Homo sapiens: one gene and its partners. The protein of the gene in region 4 purifies or fractionates together with the protein of the main gene of each other region. This does not show direct contact. Each region holds a gene or a part of one and is shown on either strand. Other genes may lie near its edges.

Evidence for each region.
Region 1: the proteins of CLEC4C (region 4) and INTS4 purify together in Homo sapiens (affinity purification with mass spectrometry; one large-scale study listed by BioGRID and IntAct). This does not show direct contact.
Region 2: the proteins of CLEC4C (region 4) and INTS7 purify together in Homo sapiens (affinity purification with mass spectrometry; one large-scale study listed by BioGRID and IntAct). This does not show direct contact.
Region 3: the proteins of CLEC4C (region 4) and SEMA6B purify together in Homo sapiens (affinity purification with mass spectrometry; one large-scale study listed by BioGRID and IntAct). This does not show direct contact.

Annotation. Positions count from the first base shown.
Region 1 is NC_000011.10:77,878,884-77,884,879, forward strand, and holds part of INTS4 (integrator complex subunit 4), read right to left. Parts: exon of another isoform or gene 5,897-5,996; intron 5,070-5,896; coding exon 4,949-5,069; intron 245-4,948; coding exon 66-244; 3' UTR 1-65. UniProt on the Homo sapiens protein: Component of the integrator complex, a multiprotein complex that terminates RNA polymerase II (Pol II) transcription in the promoter-proximal region of genes.
Region 2 is NC_000001.11:211,975,259-211,981,254, reverse strand, and holds part of INTS7 (integrator complex subunit 7), read left to right. Parts: intron 1-64; coding exon 65-162; intron 163-2,743; coding exon 2,744-2,983; intron 2,984-3,710; coding exon of another isoform or gene 3,711-3,809; exon of another isoform or gene 3,810-4,423; intron 4,424-4,535; coding exon 4,536-4,673; intron 4,674-5,882; coding exon 5,883-5,996. UniProt on the Homo sapiens protein: Component of the integrator complex, a multiprotein complex that terminates RNA polymerase II (Pol II) transcription in the promoter-proximal region of genes.
Region 3 is NC_000019.10:4,552,024-4,558,019, reverse strand, and holds part of SEMA6B (semaphorin-6B precursor), read left to right. Parts: intron 1-796; coding exon 797-857; intron 858-1,006; coding exon 1,007-1,069; intron 1,070-1,930; coding exon 1,931-2,032; intron 2,033-2,455; coding exon 2,456-2,546; intron 2,547-2,924; coding exon 2,925-3,044; intron 3,045-3,543; coding exon 3,544-3,632; intron 3,633-5,380; coding exon 5,381-5,598; intron 5,599-5,996. UniProt on the Homo sapiens protein: Functions as a cell surface repellent for mossy fibers of developing neurons in the hippocampus where it plays a role in axon guidance.
Region 4 is NC_000012.12:7,736,439-7,742,434, forward strand, and holds part of CLEC4C (C-type lectin domain family 4 member C), read right to left. Parts: intron 5,094-5,996; coding exon 4,983-5,093; intron 1,137-4,982; coding exon 991-1,136; intron 1-990. UniProt on the Homo sapiens protein: Lectin-type cell surface receptor which may play a role in antigen capturing by dendritic cells. Specifically recognizes non-sialylated galactose-terminated biantennary glycans containing the trisaccharide epitope Gal(beta1-3/4)GlcNAc(beta1-2)Man.

The DNA of each region.
Region 1 (5,996 bases), on a different chromosome or scaffold from region 4:
GGCTTGGCTCATTCTGACACCTAAGAAGGGCCCTCTAGGCCACGGTTGGGAAGACTGTTTTTGCCTTAGCGCCGTGCAGGTTTGGGCATTATATAAACTTTTACAGGCTTGCTGAAGGGAATGGTGCCCTCGATGCTGGTTTCCACCTGTGGTGACATCTCACCACCCTCCATCCAGGGGCATTTTGGAATGCGAGCACTGGAGTTGTAGGCCAGCAGCAGCCTCACTTCCACCTGGCATGCCTCTGAAAAAAAGATAAAAGAAATCCTCTATAACTAGGCAACTGCTAGGAATGAGGATGAAATGTGAAGTTAAAGAAATATCAAAATGGAAGCAGTAGGGAGAAATTTCTTCATCCGTCTACATTCCCTCCCCTTACCCTCACCAAACAAAACACTGAGCCTGCAGATGTGATGCTGTTCCATCACCTTCCCCTTGGGCTCACTGTGGCACAGAGCCAAAGCTGCTGAGGCAACTGGAGAGCAAGCTAAAAACCCTTCCAGGAAGATAATTGCTTCATGATCTGCTTTATGAACTGGGCTCAAATTCTTATGCAGGTGTGGATTTGGGCAGTTTCAGAAGGTGCATGTGGCTTATTCTGATACCCAGTTGGGCTCTTCCTGCGCAGTTCCATCTCAAGCCTCAGGGCTGCATGTACCACAGACTACTTTATTAGTGGAGAGGAAGCCTTTGAATAGGAAGTGGTTCGCCAAAAAGTTTCTGGCCAATGAACAGGAACATGTCTCAGGGACCTAAAATGTCTGAAAACATCTCATTCTTTCATTACATTATCTTACGATATAATCATCTAGTGTCTCTATGTGGCAGGTCCTAGCAAGAATAATTAAGAACTCCCCTCAAGTTGCCTGCTGTTTGGTTGAGGAAACAGATAGTTGCAATGGAGTACAACACACGCTCTAACCAAGCCTGCAAGAAGTACTGAGGAGGAGCGCAGGAAGGCTTTGGAATAGAATATCCATTCTATGCCAAACAGTTAACCCCAAGAGTTCTTATCCTGCTACATTATGAAAGAAAGACTGTCACAATCTTGGCAAAAATCCCAAGAATCAGATAGGTTCTCAGAGACTCCCCAGATGCACACCTGGGTAAGAATTTGAGCCCAGTTCATAAACTGAAGCAGTTACTCATTCTATTAACCACAAGCTTCTATAAAGAAGAGGGAGAGAATTTCAGAAAAATGTAAGGGCAAGTGCAAAGGCCAGGAATGGAGTGAGCTTGGGATGTCTCCTTAATTTGGTGCAACCAGAGCAAAAAGTGTAAGTTGAAGATGATCCCAAGGCTAAGAAGTTCAGAGGGTAGGAATGAAGGCTAGATGGATCTAAATTAACAAGGGCAGAGACTCCAGGACTTCTCAGTGCCTCCCCAGACCTCTTCCTGGTTACATCCAAGCTTCTCTCTATGGGTCAGAGTAGAGACTGGATTGCTGTCCTCCAGGAAGGGAAAGGTTTGCAGTCAGCCCAAGGCCAGAGCAATCCAGTGCACCTCAGATTTCAGCATGAGATCTAAGTGCAGCCTCATCATCAAGTACCAGCCATGTGATAAGCACACACTCACATGACAACATGAGGGTCATGCAGCAGCCATGAGTGTAACTGTCATGAAACTAACACTGTTCTCTGATACCAGGCTCCAGATGAATCTCCCACTTAGGGTGGAATCAAAATAGGTACCTATATCTGCTTTCCTGCCACACTCTCCCATTCCATCCCAAGTGGCAGACCACAACCACAGCCCCAGTTGGCATAGCACTTTCAAGAAGCCAAATCCTGGTAAGAGCTGGATAAGGCTCAAGCCTATAATCCCAGCACTTTGGGAGGGCAAGGCAGGAGAATCACTTGATCCCAGGTGTTTGAGACTAGCCTGGGCAACATAGTGAGACCTGTCTCTACAAAAAATAAAAATAATTAGCCAGGCATATAGTCTCAGTTACTAGGGGGACTGAGGTGGGAGGAACCACTTGAGCCCGAGAGGATCACACCACTGCACTCCAGCCTGGGCAACAGAAGGAAACCCTGTCTCAAAACAAACAAACAAACAAACAAAAAAACAAAAAAACAAATAAATCCTGCTAAGGTCAGAGGGAGTTGATGTAGGACTCAGCCCTACAGGGTCATTTTGCATTCCCTTACCAACATTTGATAAGAATGGCAATTCAAGGCAATGCCATAGGAGTAAAGCGGAGAAGAGAGAAAACAAGAAGGAGGGGAACTTGGGAGAAGGAGACAAGATCATCTAGGATAACTCAAGCAACTTCTGCGTCATGCCTGGAAGAATATTTCTCCTAGCAGGTTTATATTCTTATTCTCATCTTAATGAGACAGGGAAGTAAAATAACTTTCTCAGGATCACACAGCAAAGGAAGCAGAATTTGAAACATGGTCTATGACTGAGCTTCCTACGTGGCAGCATCCTGCCTCCCAGAGGAGAGGCCCCTCCCTGGTGGGGAGCTACTGAGGGATTGAAGGAGCTCCCTAGAAACTCCAGGCCCCATCACCTAGATTAGGAGAAAGAAACTGCAAGCTCATTTACAATGAGACATATTTCACTTCAGTGCCCCAAACCGGAAGGGACATAGCACAGTGAGGGCTGGGAAGGGTGACTGCAGCTTTAGCACTGTCACTGATCAGGTATGTGGGCCTCCATTTATGTATCTGTAAAATGAAAAGAGAATACTAATTTCCACTGCAGAGTTGGTCTAAAGATTAAATGAATTTTTATTGCACATTTAAAACCTTGTATTCAATTTTCATTATTTGTTGAGTGCCTACTACATGTCAGGCACTAGAGACACAGGCTACTAAAACAATGGAGATACAGAGGCAAAGACAAGCAAGTTCCCTGCTCTATAGAAGCCTACATCCTAATGGGAAAGTCAGTAAGTAATTAAATGTGAAAACACATCTGAAACCAGTACGCACTATATATAAACAATTAAAACAGGGATTTGTAATAGTGACTGGGTAGCGACCATTCAGAGGAGGTGATCTTGTTTTCTTGTTTCTGATGGTTTTTTTTTTTTTCTTTTGAGTCAGGGTCTTGCTCTGTTACCCAGGCTGGAGTGTAGTGGCATGATCAGGGCTCCCTGCAGCCTTGACCCCCCAGACTCAAGCAATCTTCCTGCCTCAGCCTCCTGAGTAGCTGGGACTACAGGCACATGCCACCATGCCCAGTTAACTTTTTTATATATCTATTGTAGAGATAGGGTTGCCCTATATTGCCCATGCTGGTCTCAGACTCTTGGGCTCAATCGATCCTCCCACCTCAGCCTCCCGAAGATTACAGGTACAAGCCACCAGGCCTGGCTGTGATCTTGTATAAGTTAAAATTATTCAGGCTCAGGATCGCCTGGCAATACAAAACAAGGAAGTCTGCAATGAACTAGGATACCTTAAGAGGAAATGGGGCCTAGGAAAAAGAACCTTGAGCTTGGGGGCAGATCAGCTGAGTTCTAACTCTGGCCTTGGCAATGACTTGCTGTGTGACCAGGGACAAGTCAGACCCTCTCAAGACCTTCCACGATCTTTGGAGCTACAGCATACTGTAATTTGCTTTCCTGAGCCTTGTCCCTCCCAAAACAATACTGTCCCACAGCATTTCCTTCCCCATGTCCGGGATCCCTTCAGCAGAAGATATTAGAATAAGGAATCTATTTTCCTGTGGGGCCAGTGGTTTGGCAAATAGTGCAAAAACATTCCAGGCAGCCAGATTATGGAATGAGGAATACTCAGGGAAGCACGTCCTGGGTAGCAGAACTGCTGGATGCTCCCTCAACTACACCAGGCCTACCACCACTAGAACCCCAAAGGGGCTGCCCTAACATCCAACAGCTTCATAAAGTCATCATTACCCATCTAACACCCTGACAGAGGGAAACCATTAATAAAGGCCCAGCGCAGTGGCTCATGCCTGTAATCCCACTACTTTGGGAGGCCAAGGCGGGTGGATCACCTGAGGTCAGGAGTTCGAGACTAGCTTGGCCAACATGACGAAACCCTGTCTCTACTAAAATACAAAAAAATTAGCCAGGTGTAGTGACGTGCACCTGTAATCCCAGCTACTCGGGAGGCTGAGACAGGAGAAGCACCTGAACCCAGGAGGCAGACAGAGGTTGCAGTGAGCCGAGATTGCACCACTGCACTCCAGCCTGGGCAAGAGCAAGACTCCGTCTCAAAATAATAATAATAATAATAATAATAGCCTTATAATTATGTGTTTAAAAACACAGAGTGAAAGAAAATTCCAAAAGGCATTCCCTATCTCTAAAATAAACCAAATTTGGTGGCATTAAACACCTCCAGTAACAGTGCTCCTGAACCATCTCCAATTATTTGGGAAACACCACTGAGGCCAATTCTGCCCCCTATTCTAGGTTCTGCAGACTGAGGTCTTCTTAAGTTTTTTAAAGCAGGCTTACAGGCTTGAAATGTAATCTCCTTTGTACTTGTATTCTCCCATTTTATCCTCACAATTCAGACATAAGTTGGCAAATGAAAAAAAATATTTTTAAAAATCCTCACAACTAATTTGTAGGTTGAGAATTATTATTGTCATTTGGAAGATAAGGAAAAAGACTCAGAAAGGGAGAGACTTGTCTAAGGTGACCAAGCAAGTCGGTGGCAGTTAGGATAAGAATAATCTCCTGGTGTCCAGACCAGGGCCCTTTCCATGAGACTCCATTCTATCATAATCGCCTGTATATCTTCCAACAGAATCTTATCTCTCATGCAATCAAAGCACTGTAGCAAATTAGCCCAAATATACCCAGTTTTTTACCCACTTAATGAGTGCTTATAAACTCATTAAGTTCAATTCTTACAAGGCCTGATTCATCCATGTATTTTTTTCAAACTTTAAAAACCAAACGCTTAAGGGTAGGTGTGATCTCCAGCAGCATATTTCCCTTCCCACCCTGGTCCTGACTCCTTACCTGTCCAAGCGGTGTGGGAGAGATAAACCTGAGTGATGAGCCGGTGCCGCCCTGGGCCAGGATTCCGGAAGTCTGCAGGCTTGGGGTGAATCATCTGAGCCTGGCCATCTGGATATAAGACCTAAAGGGTGACAGAAATGAGAAAAAGGCAGAAGCGAGAGGAGCATTTAACAAAATGGATGATGACATCTGTTGTGAACCTCAAAACACAAGAAGAAACATGACACCAACTTTACTAAGATTGAGCCTTGGGGGTAGGTCAACACTGTAGACATCTCTATTCCCCTAATCCAGCATGAAGCAGTGTTCAGTAAACATTTCCTGAATTCATGGTGAATAAGTAATATGAACAGAGTGTCTCTATTAAGCGCAAAGACAGGTAAGAATATTAATTCTTATTATGAAAAGTGTTCTCAGGCACCTTCACCAGAAGAGCACTCCCTCCCTGGCTCTGAATCATACCATGGCCCAGCATCCATCACCAACCACCAGTATTTGGAGTTATTTTGTAATTGCATTCTTTCCACTACATTGCAAGCAGCTAGGAAGTCATTTATCTCTCTCTCTACGGAGAGACGGCTCAATGAAGAGTCCACTCAAATCACTGGCCAGTTCTTTAAGGCTCATAAACTGCAACAGAGTTCTTTCCTCAGCATCCTGGGGGACCTCCCAGCTCCCTGTGTAGACAGCCTACTATACTGCAGCGCACAAAGGAACTAGAGGAACAAATGAAGCTTATCCTAGGACTAGGACCTGCTCTATGTAAATATACTTATGAAGGCAGAGTAGGGAACCACACAGGTCTTCCAATGTTGAAACTGTGGTCAATGTTGAAACTGCGGAAGGCATGTCTCACCCACTTGCCCTATAATCCTTCATCTCTCCTCAGGTCATGGGGCCTCCCCCTGATTCTACACTTCTTTCTTTCTTTTTTTTTCTTTAAAACAGGGTCTTACTCTGCCACCCAGGCTGGAGTGCAGTGGCACGATCATAACTCACTGAAGCCTCAAACTCCTGGGCGCAAGTGATCTTCCTGCCTCAGCCTCCT
Region 2 (5,996 bases), on a different chromosome or scaffold from region 4:
TATATGTGTGTGTGTTTGTACACACATCACTTGACCATCATAAAGTTTACTGTTTTTCTTCTAGATCTTTTGGCACTGGAACAAGATGCTGTCTTTGGCCTGGAATCCCTACTGGTACTTTGTAGTCAAGATGATAGTCCAGGTGCTCAGGCCACTTTAAAGGTGAAAACTTTTATTTATTAAGTTGTAATAGATATATATGATGGTCTTAGGCAATAGAAAGCAAAGTTAAGCAGACATAGCTCCTGTACTCTTAGAAGTTTTAATCTAAGTGATTAAATCTAACTGATAAAACTACACTGATTTAATCTAACTGATAAAACCACAAAAAAACTGATGACATGACTGCAGCCGACTCATAAATGTTCATTAATTTAACATAAGCGTTCATTAATTTCCCAGTGGTATAAGCCCTAGTTTATAAGCCAAGGGAAGAATATTTTAAGGAATTTTCACCTTCACTTAGTTACAGAAATCATCTTAGAGATATGCAAGATTTTTAAAATGTGAAATGAGGCCAGGACAGTGGCTCTCATGCCTATAATCCCAGCATTTTGGGGCGGTCAAGGTGGAAGGATTGCATGAGCCTAGGAGTTCAAGACCAGCCTGGGCAGCATACTGAGACCCCATCTCTAGAAAAATTTTTTAAAATTTAGCTGGACATATTGGGGCACACCTATAGTCCTAGCTACTCATGAGGCTGAGGTGAGAGGATTGCTTGAGGCCGAGAGGTTGAGGCTGCAGGGAGCCATTATTGCACCACTGTTCTCTACCCTATGTGAAAGAATGAGACCCTGTCTCAAAAAAAATAAATAAATAAAATGTGAAATGAAACTACTCTTTTTGGAGTGAAACGTGAAATATAATTTGTGATGGTGCAAAATTAATGAGGAGAAGCATAGTTAATAGAAGTAAGAAACTGTTAGATAAACATTGGCGTTAGCTTGTCTAAGGTGTGGTTTCAAGGAAGTCATGGCTCATTTTAGCAGGTTAAGGAAAGTTGTGATATGGTCATAGTGATGAACAATAAAGATAGTAACATCATTAAGTGACAGCTAATAAGAAGTAGAGAAGGGAAGTAGACAACATGTGTTTGGCAACACATTCTGAGGGGGATCCTCAGAATCCCCTTGGAACCACAGTACATTTAAGACTTTTTTTAAAAGCAAATCTTTTTTCCAACAATTGTGGGTGTCAGTAAAATGCTGGATTCAGCACAGTGGGACATACATAGATGGCCAAGAAAGGTTCCTGTAATAGAGGAGCTTCCCATCTAGAATAGGCTACTGATGTTTATATAGGGGACTATAATACCAAGCGGAACACAATACATTCTCTGATATTTCACAAAAAAAGTGCAGTTCTAATGAGAGGTCAGAGTCGGGAGTGATTAACTTTAACCAAGGGTATTAGGGAAGACTTTAAATAAATGTCATATGAGTTGAGTTGTGAAAGATGGAATCGAATTACAGTAATGAGGAAAGATTGTTTGAGCCCAATGACTGCTGTTATAAAAGACTTGAAAGTAAGAATGTACCTGTTGTGGTGGAAGAATGGTGACTAGCCCACTGTGGCTGGGTGAAATAATTTGAGATTTGGAAAAGTAGTTCAGTCATAGAGGATATCAAATAACATGGTATTATGGCTTTGATTCTATAGGTAATGAGGAGATAATATAATTTTAAAGTAATGGTAACCTTTGTCGTAATTATTATTGTTATTTGAATGTCTATTATGTGCCAATCTTTGTTGAAGACTTATATATACATTTGTTTCAGTCCTTCAATAACCCTATAATGAAATGTGTTCTCCTCTTATACACATCAGAAACTTAAGGCCGAGAGAGAGAAGTACCTTGTTCAAAGCCACCTAGCTAATAAGGGGCAAGCTGAGCTTCAGCCCTTGCATTTATCAGACTCTAAAGTTATGTGTGTGCCTGACACCCCACTGATGGCTACATGGCTGCATTGTGAAGGATGGATTGAAGGGCCCATCTTTTCAAGAAATTGGAATTAGGAAGAGATTTATGATGTGGTAGAGAGAATGGAAAAGTGCCAACAGTGGATATTGGAGGCTTGACAAAAGAATCTGTTAGCTATGTAAAAGTGGGAATATTTCTAGGTTTCTAGTTTTTTGGCTGGATATTAGTGATGCCTTTAAGAAGGCCTTGGTAAGAGAAATTCTGTAGCCAAATTGGTTTTTAGATTTCAGTTGAGAAATAAGAGAAAATTGGGAACCTCTTTCCCACTTCAGTGTACTTAGAGTCATCTAAGCCGTCTTTTTAAAACTGTGAAACCTCAGTAGCCTCAACACACACACACACGTATGTTAATTCAGGAATCTATATTTTTATTTTCATTCTGGGAGATGCTGGCATAGTTTACAAGCCACACTTCAGAAGCAGTTCCTGAAAAGTAATGATAATACAGTGATGGTGACATTTGGCCTATATTTGCCTCTTCAGCATTATTCCTTATGATTTCCATCTTTCTTAAAAGTATTTTAATAGTCTTAGATTGAAATGAGTGGTTGACGTGCAGTCCTAATTTGTTATTTTAAACGTAGTGCACTTCACAAACCCTAATGTGAGATTCAGTACCTCATATTTCTTATGAAGTAAAATGTTATGCCTACAAGAAACCTCACCCTTGAGTTTCCCCAGTAACCTGTACAAAGCTCTTTTCCTTAAAGCTTCATCTGTATCTTCAAAATGTAACTAGTTCATTTTCTTTTTGGCGTGCAGATTGCTCTAAACTGTATGGTGAAGTTGGCCAAGGGCAGGCCCCATCTTAGCCAGTCAGTAGTTGAGACCTTGTTGACTCAATTGCACAGTGCTCAAGACGCTGCCCGGATTTTGATGTGCCATTGCCTGGCAGCCATTGCCATGCAACTGCCGGTGCTGGGTGATGGGATGCTTGGTGACCTCATGGAGCTGTACAAGGTGATTGGACGATCAGCCACAGACAAGCAACAAGAACTTCTGGTAAAAAGCCCATTTTGAATCTCCTTTGAATGACTAGGATCTGGTCTAGTGGGAATTACTTTTAAGTCAACATTACTATTTGACTTTACTTAAAAAACAGAACAAACAATAGGTTAAATTCATTACCTAAGACCAAAGAGTGTGCTGATGTCAAAATAGAATTGGCTTTATGAGCTTTTTACTTTTTTCACTTTTGATTTAGAAAGCCGTGTTTTGTTCACCTCTAAAACTGCTTTCTTCCGAAACCCTGTCAAATCAGCCTAGTATAGCCAAAGCCTTCAATCTCATGTTTTTTTTTATTGCAAAGGACAGAATGAAAATGAAATTTTTATCTTTCTTATACAGAGTAAATAATGAACTAAACCCTGTTTTGTACTTTAGAAAATAGAAGTTAAAAATCTAATGATAATAATGACCATAAATTAGCCCAAATTTATGTTTTCCATTCCAGGACCTCTTTAGCTGTTTAGGATCCAGTTTAGGCTTCTGTAGACCCTTGAGGTTGGGAAAGGTACATGCTTAGAAAGAAACAGAAGCTGTGGAAGCTATAAAATGTTTAGTTGAAAAGTTCTGCAGGACTGAGAGTAGGCTACATTCTAAATAATTGTAAATTAAATGAAAGTTGTAAGGTTGCCATTCCATATTGTTCTGTTCATCTTAATTTAGAATGTGGGAAAAAATATAATGAAATAATTTATTCAAGCCTGTTTTATGTTTAATCCTCCAGAGGGAATTGTGTAAAAGATTGACCCCATCCCATCATTTGCTGCCAGAAAAGGTTACCTTGATGACCAAATGTATGGATCTTTATATGAATCAGCTTTGAAATATTAAGAGGCAGTTAGCTAAGTTTATTTTTTATTGAAGTGGCATTTTGAACTAACGGTCCTGATATCTTTTTTGTGAGTACTACCTTAAGATTGTCTTAAATTATGAAACATAATATTCAAAAAATCTGAGGAATAATACAGTGAAAACTCTTGCATTCATTATCTAGCTTAAGAAAAAGGTATTAACAGTTTAGTTGAAGCCCCCTGTTTACCTTGCTGATAGCATCTCCTCCCTTCTCTCAGGTAACCACTATCCTGAATTTGGTATTTATCATTCTCATGCCTGTTATTCTTTTACTACCAAAGTGTATATCCCTAAGTAATATGCAGTATTTTGCATATTTTTAATTTTATGTAAACTTTATCATACTACTTGTAATCTTTTGCATTTTGCATATTTTTGCGTATTTTGCTTGTCATCTATGTTGGTAAGTCTGTCGCTAGTTTATCCATTTTATTTACGTATCTCATTGTTTGATTATGTTATATAATTTATTCATATTATGGGTATTGCTTCTACTTCTTTGCTGTTATAAAGAGTGCCCTGAGTGAATGGAATAAATTAATGACTTCAAAATAAAAAATTAAATAAATGTCATTGGAAAACAAATTTTGTTCTTTTGCAGTGGGCTCTAATTAGTTTTCCTCCCTTTGGGGTAGGTTATCAATGACACTGAATAAAATTAAATGATTTTCTTGGTTTTCTTCTTGCCCAATGTTAGGTGAGTTTGGCTACTGTGATTTTTGTTGCAAGTCAGAAGGCATTGTCTGTGGAAAGTAAGGCAGTAATTAAGCAGCAGCTTGAAAGTGTCTCCAATGGATGGACTGTATACCGTATTGCCAGACAGGCTTCCAGAATGGTATGTGTTACCCTTCTGAGTGAACTGGGTTGCTGGAAATGTCAGATCATGTATCTTCAATTGTATGATTATTAGTTGTAGTCAAAACTAAAAATAAAGATGGAAGTACCTTTTAGTCATGGGTTCTGAAGATGAGGAAGGAAAGGACCTGATTTTTAACTTTTATCATAAAAGAATGGTATCTATGTTGTTGGCATTAGTAATGAGGAAGTTAAAATCTGGACCCTTTCTGGCTGTAGGTTGTTAGTGCCACTTTCATTTTGCTCTGTATTGTTATAACCAAGGCCACCTACCACCCGCTGTTTCTATCTTCCTTTCTCAGTATACCACATCTTTGTTCCTCTCCCCAGTCTTGTCATTCTTAAGTAGAAATGGGAAAGCTTTAGTATGCTGTACTCTTCTCAGCCATATGGAAAGCCTAACAAGTTTTATTAATTTTGTTTGAGAGGAAATAGAAACCTTGGTTAGTACAGAAATCCTGGCCGGGTGGGGTGGCTCACGCATGTAATCCCAGTACTTTGTGAGAGGCCAAGGCGGACAAATCTCTTGAGGCCAGGAGTTTGAGACCAGCCTGGCTGACATAGTAAAAGCCTGTCTCTACTAAAAATAAATTAAAAAAAAAAACCTTGGGGATAAGTCCAGAGACCAAAGTTTGAGGAAGCATTACTCTAGGTGATTGAAGTGCATGTTCTTAATTTTATGTTGCTTCTCAAATGGGGGAGAAGCACACACTCTTGGCAGGACAATTCTTCATTATACTGTTCTGTCCCAAGCACTGCAGGACATTGAGTATCCCTGGCCCCAGGCATTAAATGGTATTCACATTTCTCCCTGCAACTATGCCTTCTCCCCTGGGGTTTCTCTCACCCACTAAATAGTTCATCTAGAATAACATAAAAAAGTATTTATACTTCCTGTATTTTGGGCTAAAGTTCTAGACTTGGTTTATAGTTGATTCCATTTATTTTCTCTTTCGGAACTGTTTTAGTAAAGAATTTCAAGCATTATGTTACATAAAAGCAACTCAGCATATTTTCTCTGAGGAAATATTTAGACAGAGTCTCAGCGAATTACATAATATGAGGAATGATTGTTCAGACTTATCCAAGGTTTGGGTTTCTCTTTTAGCTGCTGCATCAACTCTTTCAAATGTAAGAACCTCACCGTGTGCTCCTTCTATTCTTTTTTCTTTTCTTTTTTTGTTTTTAGGGTAATCATGACATGGCCAAAGAGCTTTATCAGAGTTTGCTGACTCAGGTTGCCTCAGAACATTTCTACTTCTGGCTAAATAGTTTGAAGGAGTTTTCACATGCAGAACAGTGT
Region 3 (5,996 bases), on a different chromosome or scaffold from region 4:
CTGGGGACAGCAAGGAGGCCTGTGTGACGAGCAGAATGAGCGAGGGGGAGAGAGAGAGGAGGCGAGGGCAGGGAGGGGATGGAGCAGGTCGTGCAGGGCCTGTTGGGCCATTGGGAGGACTTAGGCTTTGACCCGGAGGAAGGTGGGAGCCACGGAGGGTTTTAGGTAGGGGAAGGACTGGACCTGACTCAGGTGCTCACACGCGCCCGCCCTCTGGTGGCTGCTTCTGGGAGGGGGCGAGAATGGAATCCAGGGGACCAGGGTGGAGGGGACTGGGCTGTCCAGGCTGGCTATGATTGAGGCTGGACCAGGTGGAAGCTGTCGTGGGGAGAAGCAAGTGTGAGATTACGGGGCTTCTAGGGATGGGCTTCCCAGGAAGGAGAGAGACCGGACAGATCAAATGCTTTGGAGAGGATGAGGAGGATGCGGAAGTGACCACTGGGCTTAACTACACGAGGTCACCAATGACGTTGAGCAGGGCGGCTTCCTCGGCAAGGGTGTGAGGGGAGAGAGCCTGGTGGGCGCCTGGGAGGCGCCGAGTGGGGCACCTGACCTAAGGCCATGGGACATGGTGTTGGGGGCAGTCCGTGGGGCGTGCCGGGCAGGAGGTGGAGTGCAGGATATGAAGGCCTGCTGGGGCCCTTGGGGGGGTGTGGTCGGCGCTAGAGTTGCTCGTGTCAGAGGCATTGGCATGGCCCTGCATGCCCCCGTGTGCACACCACATTGGCAGTGGGAAGGATGGAACGGGAGAGGGTGGCGGAGCCCCCAGTTCTCACTAACTATGCCCCTCCCCCAGGGACAACCTCTACCGCGTAGAGCTGGAGCCCCCCACGTCCACGGAGCTGCGGTACCAGAGGGTGAGGAAGGGGTGCAGGTGGGAGTGGAGGGGTAGGGCCAGGGGGACGCGGCACTGCGCCGGGGAGCTGGGTGGATTCGGCCCAGCACGGCGGGGTCACTCAGGGCTGCTGGGACCCGTTACCCCCTCACCAGCTCTCTCTGTCTGCAGAAGCTGACCTGGAGATCTAACCCCAGCGACATAAACGTGTGTCGGATGAAGGGCAAACAGGAGGTGAGTTGGCCCTGGCTCGGTCCCGGCCCCTGCGAATCAGCCCTGGCATTACCCATGCCCCGCCCCAATCAGACCAGGCCACGCCCACCCCGCCAGCCCTGGCCACGCCCCAACCCACCCCCAATCAGCCCTGGCCCCGCCCAACTGCCAGCCCTGGCCACACCCCCAAACAGCCATGGCCACGTCCACGTCCCCACCCAATTGGTCCTAGCCCGGCCTCCAGCCTAGCCACAATTATCCATAACCACGCCCCAAATAGTTCTGGCTATGCCCACACTTCTGCCCCTGTCAGTCCTACCACCACCCCCAGCCTCGTTCCAACAAGCCCAGGCCATGTTCACACGCCACCCAATAGCTCACTCCCCACCCAATCGATCAGGTCCCCATCCCGACCCCTCCCCTATCAGTCCTGCCGCCCCCCACGCCCCCGGCCCGCCCCAATAAGCCCAGGCCACGCCCACCCCACCAGCTCTGGCCACGCTCCCAACTTGGCCCCAATCAGCTATAACCGTGCCCACCACGCCCCAGTTAGTTCTGGTCACGACCATGCCCCACCCCAATCGGCCGTGACCACACCCAGGGCGGATCCTTCTCCTCCATCCCAGGTTAGGACTCTGCTATTGCCATGGTTATGCCCACAGTCTGACAATGCCCACCATCCTGGCCTTGCCTGCGTTGCTGATACAAAGTGTTTCCCTGTCTGGGTCGCACCGTGTCCCCAGCCAGTCCTAGGTTCAGCCCCTGCCTTGGCCATGCCCACAACAGACCGGCCCTCCACCCACACAACTCAGGTTCTGGCCACGCCCATCACCATGACCACGCCCACATCGCGCTCCCCGCTTCCTCCTGTCCCCACCTCAGGGCGAGTGTCGAAACTTCGTAAAGGTGCTGCTCCTTCGGGACGAGTCCACGCTCTTTGTGTGCGGTTCCAACGCCTTCAACCCGGTGTGCGCCAACTACAGCGTGAGTCTTCAGACTCCCTGCGCCCCAGGTCCAACCTCCAGGCCTCTGCTCGCCCGACCTCCGCTGGCCATGGCTTTTCCCCAGGCCGTGTCACCTCCTCCAGGAAGCCTTCCTGGATATACTCTCCCTGCCTCCTCCCCCTGAGCTCAAGAGGAGTCAGCGCTGTCCAAACGAGGCCTGTACAGGGGGCCGGGGAAGCCGTAGCTACTTAGGTAATGAGCCAGTTACAGGTCTAACTAGGCATTGACTCTTAAACCCATTTACAGATCAGTAAACTGAGGCCCTGAGAGGTTAAGTGAGTGGCCAAGGTCACACAGTAATCCGTGGTGGATCAGGATTCCCCCTGGAGTGGGGGGCTGAGGGAGCCAGGGGCTGCTAGGTGGGGTCAGGAGATCTGTCACTCAGGCCCCATGGTCCCTGCAGATAGACACCCTGCAGCCCGTCGGAGACAACATCAGCGGTATGGCCCGCTGCCCGTACGACCCCAAGCACGCCAATGTTGCCCTCTTCTCTGGTAAGTACCCCCCCAACCTCCATCTGATCAGCCCCAGCCACAGGCAAGACCTGGCATTTTCTACTCCAGCGTCTGGGTTGTTTAGAAGGCAGCTGGACGACCACTTGTCCCAGCTGTGACATGGGCAGACTCTCAGCCCAGGTTTGGGGCTCAGCTGGGATTGAGGCTCAGCGGGATTTGGGGCTTAGCCGGGGTCAGGGGCTCAGTTAAGGTCAGGGCTTGGATGGAGGTGGGGCTTGGATGGGATCAGGGCTCAGCCTGGAGACAGGGGCTCCCCTAGGCTCAGGACTCAGTCTCAGAAAATCGAGTTTCGACCCACCCAGCCCCTGGCCTCTGCGGTCTCATCTCTTGCCTGCCTTCCCCACCCACCCCATCCAGACGGGATGCTCTTCACAGCTACTGTTACCGACTTCCTAGCCATTGATGCTGTCATCTACCGCAGCCTCGGGGACAGGCCCACCCTGCGCACCGTGAAACATGACTCCAAGTGGTTCAAAGGTGAGACCAGGAAGGGCAGTGGGCCCAGACCTGGCAGGGCCCAGAACCTGACATTCATCAAATCTCCCCACCAGAATAAGAGTCCCAGAGGAGCTTGGTGGAGAGATTTCCACCACATCTTTGGAATCTGTTGGCCTTTTTGAAGACTAGAAAGCTAGAGGAACAAGTTTAGTTGGATCTAAAGTAGAACCCGCTGGAAGTGGGTGGCTTAGAAGCCCAAAATGGAACCACAGAAAAGATATAGCAGGACTCAGCTCTTCAACACATGAGGGAGGAAGATAACAAAAAATAGTTGATGTTGCCATTTGCAGCAAGAGACACAGCGATTTTAGGCTTCTGACCTCCCTTCCCCTGCAAAATACCAAACTTTGAGTCTGTTTCATATTGTCTGGGTAACCAGCCTATGTCCCCCCTTCACCATAAAAGCCAGTGAGTTCTTAGCCCCAGAAACCCCCTTTGTCATGTCAGGGGCTGAGTTCTGACCCCTCCTGTCCTGCAGAGCCTTACTTTGTCCATGCGGTGGAGTGGGGCAGCCATGTCTACTTCTTCTTCCGGGAGATTGCGATGGAGTTTAACTACCTGGAGAAGGTGAGGCCGGTGCAGTGGGGCATGAAGTTGAGAGGCTCTGATCATGCGAAGTGAGGGGGCAGAGGTGGATCCATGAATCCCTGCATGGGGTGAGAGGGTCCTGCCCTCCATTTCTGGTCCCCAGGGCCTCCTTTCCAGCCATGATCAGGCCCTGAGGCTGAAGACATCTACGGAGCAGCCGTGGAGCACTCAGCCCTGACGAGGGACTTGAGTTGGAAGTCAGATACACCTGGTGCTGTTGCTGTTCACCTGTCCACCCACCCACCCAGCCACAATCACTTATCCATCCTTCATCCCCTGTCCATCCGTCTACCTGCTCACCCTCCCACTTACCCATCTGTCTGTTCTTCAGCCCACCCACACTTTCATGAGCCCATTAATCCATCTACTCATCTGCCCACCCACTCACTCATCCACCCACTACCATCCATCCGTGCACTCATCCATCTGTCCATGCATCCATCCACCCATCGATTCATCTAGCCACCCTTCCATCCTATCCATCTATCAGTCCATCCACCTATCCATCCATCTATCCATCATCTGTCCATCCATCTGCCAATCCATTCACCCATCCATTCATCCATCCATCCATCCCATCCACCCATCCATCCATTTATCTACCCATCCACCAACACACCCACCCACCCACCCACCCATCCATCCATCCATCCATCCACACATCCATCCATCCATCCAGCTGCCAATCCATCCACCCATCCATTCATCCATCTACCTATCCACCCACCCATCCATCCATCCTTCATCTATCCATCCATCTGCCAATCCATCCACCCTTCCATCTCATCTATCCATCCATCTCATTCACCCACTCATCATCTATGCACCCACCCATCTATCCATCCATTTATCTGCCCATCCACCCACACACCCATCCATCCATCCATCCATCCATCCATCCATCCATCCATCCATCCACTCACCCATCCAACCATCCACCCATCCAACTCACCTATCCATCCATCCATCCATCCATCCATCCATCCACTCACCCATCCAACCATCTACCCACCCAACTCACCCATCCATCCATCCATCCATCCATCCACCCACTTATCCATCCATTCATTCATCCACTTATTCACCTATCCATGCATCCATCCATCCACTCACCTAGCTTTCTCTCTATCCATCTGTTCATCCATCCACCCACACATCCATCTACTTATCTACCAATTGCTTGATTACCTTGTTCTCCTTCACCATCTCTTCCATTATCTATCATCCTTCTTCAGATGTATTTATTTATCCATCCACCTACTCATCCCTCCATTGTAATCGTCCGTCCATCTACTCATCCACTCATCCGTCCATCCAGGCAACCAGGCAGTGCTGAAGTGCACAGACTGCCACTAACTACTATTGTGACCTTGGACCAGTCACTTCCTTTTATCTGTGCCTCTTATCAGTGTCCCCACATGTACAATGGGGGGATATCAGTAGGCCCCCCTCGGGAAGAGTGTAAGAGATGTGAGAATAAAATGTGGGTCTTCGTGGAAACAGTGATGATTATGGTTGTCACTGTTGCTATTATCATCATTGACATTCCCACCGGGAATTTCTGCCAGGGAAGCCGGTGCCCAGAGAGGAACGGTGACTGGCCGGGGTCCCACCAGAGCCAGGGTCAGACTCCTCCATCACAGTTTGGGTGGTGAGTGGCACAGCCTGTGAACAGGCCTTCCTGGGACACAGAGCTCAGGCCCCCGTCCGTCCACTGTCACGCCCAGGTGGTGGTGTCCCGCGTGGCCCGAGTGTGCAAGAACGACGTGGGAGGCTCCCCCCGCGTGCTGGAGAAGCAGTGGACGTCCTTCCTGAAGGCGCGGCTCAACTGCTCTGTACCCGGAGACTCCCATTTCTACTTCAACGTGCTGCAGGCTGTCACGGGCGTGGTCAGCCTCGGGGGCCGGCCCGTGGTCCTGGCCGTTTTTTCCACGCCCAGCAACAGGTCAGCGCCCACCAATGGGAGCAAACTGGGAGCATTTGGTGGGCATGGGTAGAGAGGGCCTGTATTCACTCCTCAGGTATGCCCTGGGTGCTAGGTTGGGCACCACTGGATTAGACCTCTGAGAGGCCTCGGCCCCAGGCTGGGGTGGGACAAGCTGACACTGACCCTCTAAGTCCCTTTGGTCAGAACTGGGCCAAAGATATCCTCATCCTCTGCCTTTGGGGAGAGGAGCAGGGAGGGCTTCCTGGAGGAGGGGACATTGGAGCTGGACTTTGGGTGTGAGATGGAGGAAGAGGGAAGGGTGTTCAAAGTTGGAGAAACAGCATGTGCAAAGGTCCTGAGGCTTCAGTGAGTTCAGTATACTTAAGTAATCGTGAGAGAGTCTGTGTGGGAAGGGA
Region 4 (5,996 bases):
ATGTTTAATTGGTTGACATTTCTTAGATGGCAAATATTAATATCATTTTTCCATTTTTCAAATTCACTATTTTATTTGCCTGAATTTTTTTTCTTATATTTTTAAAATTAAAATTCTTCAGGATCAAATTTCAACATCAATGTTTGCCTGAAGTTTGCTCCGGAATTTGTTTTATTAAAGTTATTGTTAGCCAGACGTGGTGGCTCACACCTGTAATCCCAGCACTTTGGGAGGCCGAGACGGGCAGATCACGAGGTCAGGAGATCCAGACCATCCTGGCTAACACAGTGAAACCCCATCTCTACTAAAAATACAAAAAAATTAGCCGGGCGTGGTGGCAGGTGCCTGTAGTCCCAGCTACTTGGGAGGCAGGAGAATGGTGTGAACCCGGGAGGCTGAGCTTGCAGTGAGCTGAGATTGTGCCACTGCACTCCAGCCTGGGCAACAGAGCAAGACTCCGTCTCAAAATAAATAAATAAATAAATAAAAATAAAAAATAAAGTTATTGTTGGCCACACATGGTGGCTCACGCCTATAATCCCAACACTTTGAGAGGCCGAGGCAGGTGGATCATTTGAGGTCAGTAGTTCAAGATCAGCCTGACTAACATGGTGAAACCTCGTCTCTTCTAAAAATACAAAAATTAGCCAGGCGTGGCGGTACATGCCTATCCTCCCAGCTACTTGGGAGGCTGAGGCAGGAGAATCACTTGACCCCGGGAGGCGGAGGCTGCAGGGAGCTGAGATCGTGCCATTACACTCCAGCTTGGGTGACAAAAGGAGACAGTCCCCCCAAAAAAAATAAAAATAAAAGTCATTTTTGAGTGTTCCAGATTAAGGAGATTTTCCTGTGTTTTTTGTTTTTTGGGTTTTTTTTTACCCAGAAGTTTTTTTTTTTTTCCTGTCTTTGAACTTTCAGGGCAATAAAAAGACTCTTTATCAGTTAAGAAAGGAAACAGATTAGCTGACCACCTTGCCTGTTAGAACATACCTGTTCTTCCCTGGTGTTGATCACCACCAGATCAGCCCCCATCACAGAACAGTTCTTTTGACTCTTAGTCCAAGATTGCATCCCAGTAGAAATAAAGTAGCAACTAGACTGAAATGAAGTCCAAGGGGTTGGGCAGCAGCTCCAATCTTCCCAAATGAGTATAGAAGAAGAAAAAATATTAACAGAGAATTCTCCTCACATAAAGTTATAAGCTTAGCTTGCTAAGGTTTAATTAGTTTTCACCTATGGATCTCCACGGATTTTCCAAAGCTGAACTCATTTACTGGTGTATTTACTAATCCCTAGATCATTTCACTCTATACAGGGACCAGCAAACTTCCTGCAAAAGGCCAGATAGTAAATATCTCAGGCTTTTTGGGCCATACGGTTTCTGTTGCAACTGCTTAACTCTGCTACTGCAGTACGAAAGCAACCACTGGCAATATGTTACCAAAGAAAAAAAAAAGAACATGAGTATGGCAATAAAATGCCATTTACAAAACTAGGCAGCTTGTTGAGTTTGGCCCATGCCTTAGTTTTCCAGGCCCTGCTTTAAACCCACAAAAATGATCTGAAAGACAAATACTTTAACTTCAGGTTCTCATCATTCATTGGTGGTCATATATGAACCATGTCCACATCTTTAGCAAAAATAAGCTTCGCAATGTTATATTTGTCACTAATAATTATAGATATAAATATCATTTAGAGTTTAGCATCCCATTATAAAGAATGAGTCCAGAGTAAGACATATCTGGGTTGCAACCTCATTTTCTGTGCTGTAATTTTGGGAAAATTATATAACCACTCTAAGCCTTAAATATTTTTCTTTTCGTTTGTAAATGGGAATATTTCTCACTCAGAATGTTGAGAGGTTGAGGTGACATAATACATGCAAAACACTTAAGAGCAGTACGTGCTGAAAAATATCCATCTCTCCTCCTTCGAAGCACCAGTTTCTTCCACTGTCAGCACAAACGAGATTATATACATTCCCTCTAACAAACAGTGACAATGTAGACCATATCAAAATGTTTTTCTTTATATTTTGACATACATTATACCAAAATAAATATTTAAAAATTTTTTTAGAGACAGGATCATGCTTTGTCATCTAAGCTGGAGTGCAGTGGCATAACCATGGCTCACTGCAGCCTTGACCTGGATTCAAGTGATCCTCCCACCTCAGCCTCCCAAGTAGCTGGAACCACAGGGGCACGCCACCACACCCAGCTAATTTTTTTTGTATTATTTGTAGAGACAGAGTCTTGCTTCGTTGCCCAGGCTGATCTGGAACTCCTGGGATCAAGTGATCCACTGGCCTCAGCTGCCCTGAAGTGCTGGAATTACAGGCATGAGCCACTGAGCCTGGCCTCCTATGATAGTTTTGTTTTGTTTTTAATTATACTTTAAGTTCTAGGGTACATGTGCACAACGTGCAGGTTACATATGTATACATGTGCCACTTTGGTGTGCTGCACCCATTAACTCGTCATTTATGTTAGGTATATCTCCTAATGCTATCCCTCCCCCCTCCCCACCCCACAACAGGCCCCAGTGTGTGATGTTCCCCACCCTGTGTCCAAGTGTTCTCATTGTTCGATTCCCACCAGTAGTTTTGAAAAAGAAACTCTTGTCATCTTTTTACCTCTCACAGTTTTTCCCTATAAGTAAAGAATGAATTATTTCATTCTTTTTTTTTGAGATGGCATCTCGCTCTGTCGCCCAGGCTGGAGTGCAGTGGTGTGATCTCGGCTCACTGCAACCTTCGCCTCCCGGGTTCAAGCAATTCTCCTGCCTCAGCCTCCGGAGTAGCTGGGACTACAGGTGCCCGCCACCACGCCCAGCTACTTTTTATATTTTTAATAGAGACGGGGTTTCACCATGTTGGCCAGGATAGTCTCAATCTCTTGACCTCGTGATCCGCCCGCCTCGGCCTCCCAAAGTGCTGGGATTACAGGGGTGAGCCACCGCGCCTGGCCTGTTTCATTCTTGAAATAATTGTTTGATGCCCTTTGGGTCCATATTTCCTTCCTGCAAAGGATTAAGGCCATAGAGGCATTTCTGGGGTGGAACTTGTCTCCCTCCGGCTCTGCATACGACGCTGTAGGCAGTCCCTGATCCTGGACACAGCCGACCAATTATCCCTGAGGAGGTGAGTAGGCCTGGACTAGGGAGCAACAGTTTGGCCTCACTCTAGGCCATATTTCATGGTTTGATTTTACCATCAATAAAGCTGATAATTTTATTTTATTTATTATCTTTTTTTTAGACAGGGTCTCACTTTGTCACCCGGGCTGGAGTGCAGCAGTGTAATTGCTGCTTACTGTAGCCTCAACCTCCGGAGCTCAACTGATCCTCCCACCTCAGCCTCCAAAGTAGCTAGGACTATAGGCACATGCCACCATAGCTCGGTAATTTTTTTTTTTTTTTGAGATGGAGTTTCACTCTTATTGTCCAGGCTGGGACAATCTCAGCTCACCACAACCTCCACCTCCCAGGTTCAAGTGATTCTCCTGCCTCAGCCTCCCGAGTTGCTGGGATTACAGGCATGCGACACCACGCCCGGGTAATTTTGTATTTTTAATAGAGACAGGGTTTCTCCATGTTGGTTAGGCTGGTGTCGAACTCCTGACCCCAGGTGATCCACCCGCGTCGGCCTCCCAAAGTGCTGGGATTACAGGCATGAGCCACCGTGCTGCGCTTGGGTGATTTATTTTTAAGTATTTTGTAGAGTTGAGGTCCCATCTTGTTTCCCAGGCTGGTTTCAAGCTCCCGTGCTTAGGTGATTACCCCTCCTCAGCCTCCCAAAGCACTGGGATTACAGATGTGAGCCACTATGCCAGGCATAATTTTATTCTTATCTGAATCCTGTGTATATTTATTTTTCAGTTAATCCAGAACTGTATAGGGAGAGGGATATATTTACTGTTGAACTTAGTGATTAATTGGATGCAGGGGTGAAGATGATAAGCAAAGAAAAACTGCTGGCCAGGCACGGTGGCTCACGCCTGTAATCCCAGCACTTTGGGAGGCCGATGCGGGAGGATTGCCTGAGCTCAGGAGTTCACGACCAGCCTGGACAACAAGGTGAAACCCCGTCTCTACTAAAATACAAAAAAATTAGCCGGGCCTGGCAGCGTGTGCCTGTAGTCCCAGTTACTTGGGAGGCCGAGGCAGGAGAACTGCTTGAACCTGGGAGGCAGAGGTTGCAGTGAGCCGAGATCGCGCCACTGCACTCCAGCCTGGGCGACAGAGTGAGACTCCGTCTCAAAAAAGAAAAAAAAGAAAAGAAAGAAAAAAGAGAAAAAAACTGCTAAGAATGATTCTTGAGTTTTAGGCTTTAATATTGATGGGAGCAGGAGGAAGTGAGACAGTTCTGAGGACCCCTGTTTGATACTTTAATTTTGAGGTGTCTATTTTTTTTTTTGAGACGGAGTCTCGCTCTGTCACCCAGGCTGGAGTGCAGTGGCGCGATCTCGGCTCACTGCAAGCTCCACCTTCTGGGTTTACACCATTCTCCTGCCTCAGCCTCCCGAGTAGCTGGGACTACAGGCGCCTGCCACTGCACCCAGCTAATTTTTTGTATTTTTAGTAGGGACAGGGTTTCACCGTGGTCTCGATCTCCTGACCTCGTGATCCGCCCGCCTCGGCCTCCCAAAGCGCTGGGATTACAGGCTTGAGCCACCGCGCCCGGACTTTTTTTGCATTTTTAGTAGAGATGCGGTTTCTCCGCATGTTGGTCAGGCTGGTCTCAAACTCCAGACCCTCAGGTAATCCACCCACCTCGGCCTCCCAAAGTGTTGGGATTACAGGTGTGAGCCATTGGGCCCAGCCTGAGGTGTCTATTTAAGATACCAAGTAGATAGTTAAAGAATGCAGTAGGAAAAACCAGGCTGCAGTTGATAATTTTAGTGCTGAAGATATAAACCATCAGACTAGGAATTTGATTAATAGCAAGGGAAGTCTTGTTGCCCATTGCAGAGTTGTACCTTCTATGTCCTTTCCTTCCATGACGCAGGTCAGGCTTGGATGATACTGTTGATACTCTCGTAACTTGGACAGCCTCTTGACAGTTTTGCTATACATAAAATTGTGAGGCACTGGGAAAGAGAAATCGGAGTTAGTTCTCATTCTTTTAAGTGGATCTATGTTGTACTATACAATCTTATGCTGTGGACAGGCACAGTGACTCACGCCTGTAATCTCAGCACTTTAGGAGGCCGAGGTGGGAGGACCATTTGAGGTCGGGAGTTAGAGACCAGCCTGGCTAACATGGTGAAACCCCGTCTCCACCAAAAATATAAAAATTATCCAGGTGGCCAGGCACAGTGGCTCACACCTGTAATCCCAGCGCTTTGGGAGGCCGAGGCTGGTTGGATCACTTGAGGTCAGGAGTTTGACCAACATGGTGAAACCCCGTCTCTACTAAAAATACAAAAATTAGCTGGGTGTGGTGGCGGGCACCTATAATCCGAGCTACTTGGGAGGCTGAGGCAAGAGAATTGCTAGAACCCAGGAAGCAGAGGTTGCAGTGAGCCGAGACCGCGCCATTGCACTCCAGCCTGGACGACAGAGCAAGACTGTGTCTCAAAAAAACAATTAGCCAAGGGTGGTGGCAGGCGCCTGTAATTCCAGTTACTCAAGAGGCTGAGGCAGGAAAATCACTTGAACTTGGAAGACAGAGGTTGCAGTGAGCCGAGATCGTGCCATTGCACTCCAGCCTGGGTGACAAGAGTGCAACTCCATCTCAAAAAAATAAATAAATAAATAAATAAAAATAAAGAATCTTATGACTTTACGGCTGGGCATGGTGGCTCACACCTGTAATCCCAGTACTTTGGGAGGCCAAGGCGGGTGGATCACCTGAGGTCAGGAGTTCAAGCCCAGCCCAGCCAACATGGTGAAACCCTGTTTCTACTAAAAATACAAAAATTAGGTGGGCATGGTGGCACATGCCTGTAATCCCAGCTACAGGAGGCTGAGGCAGGAGAATCACTTGAACC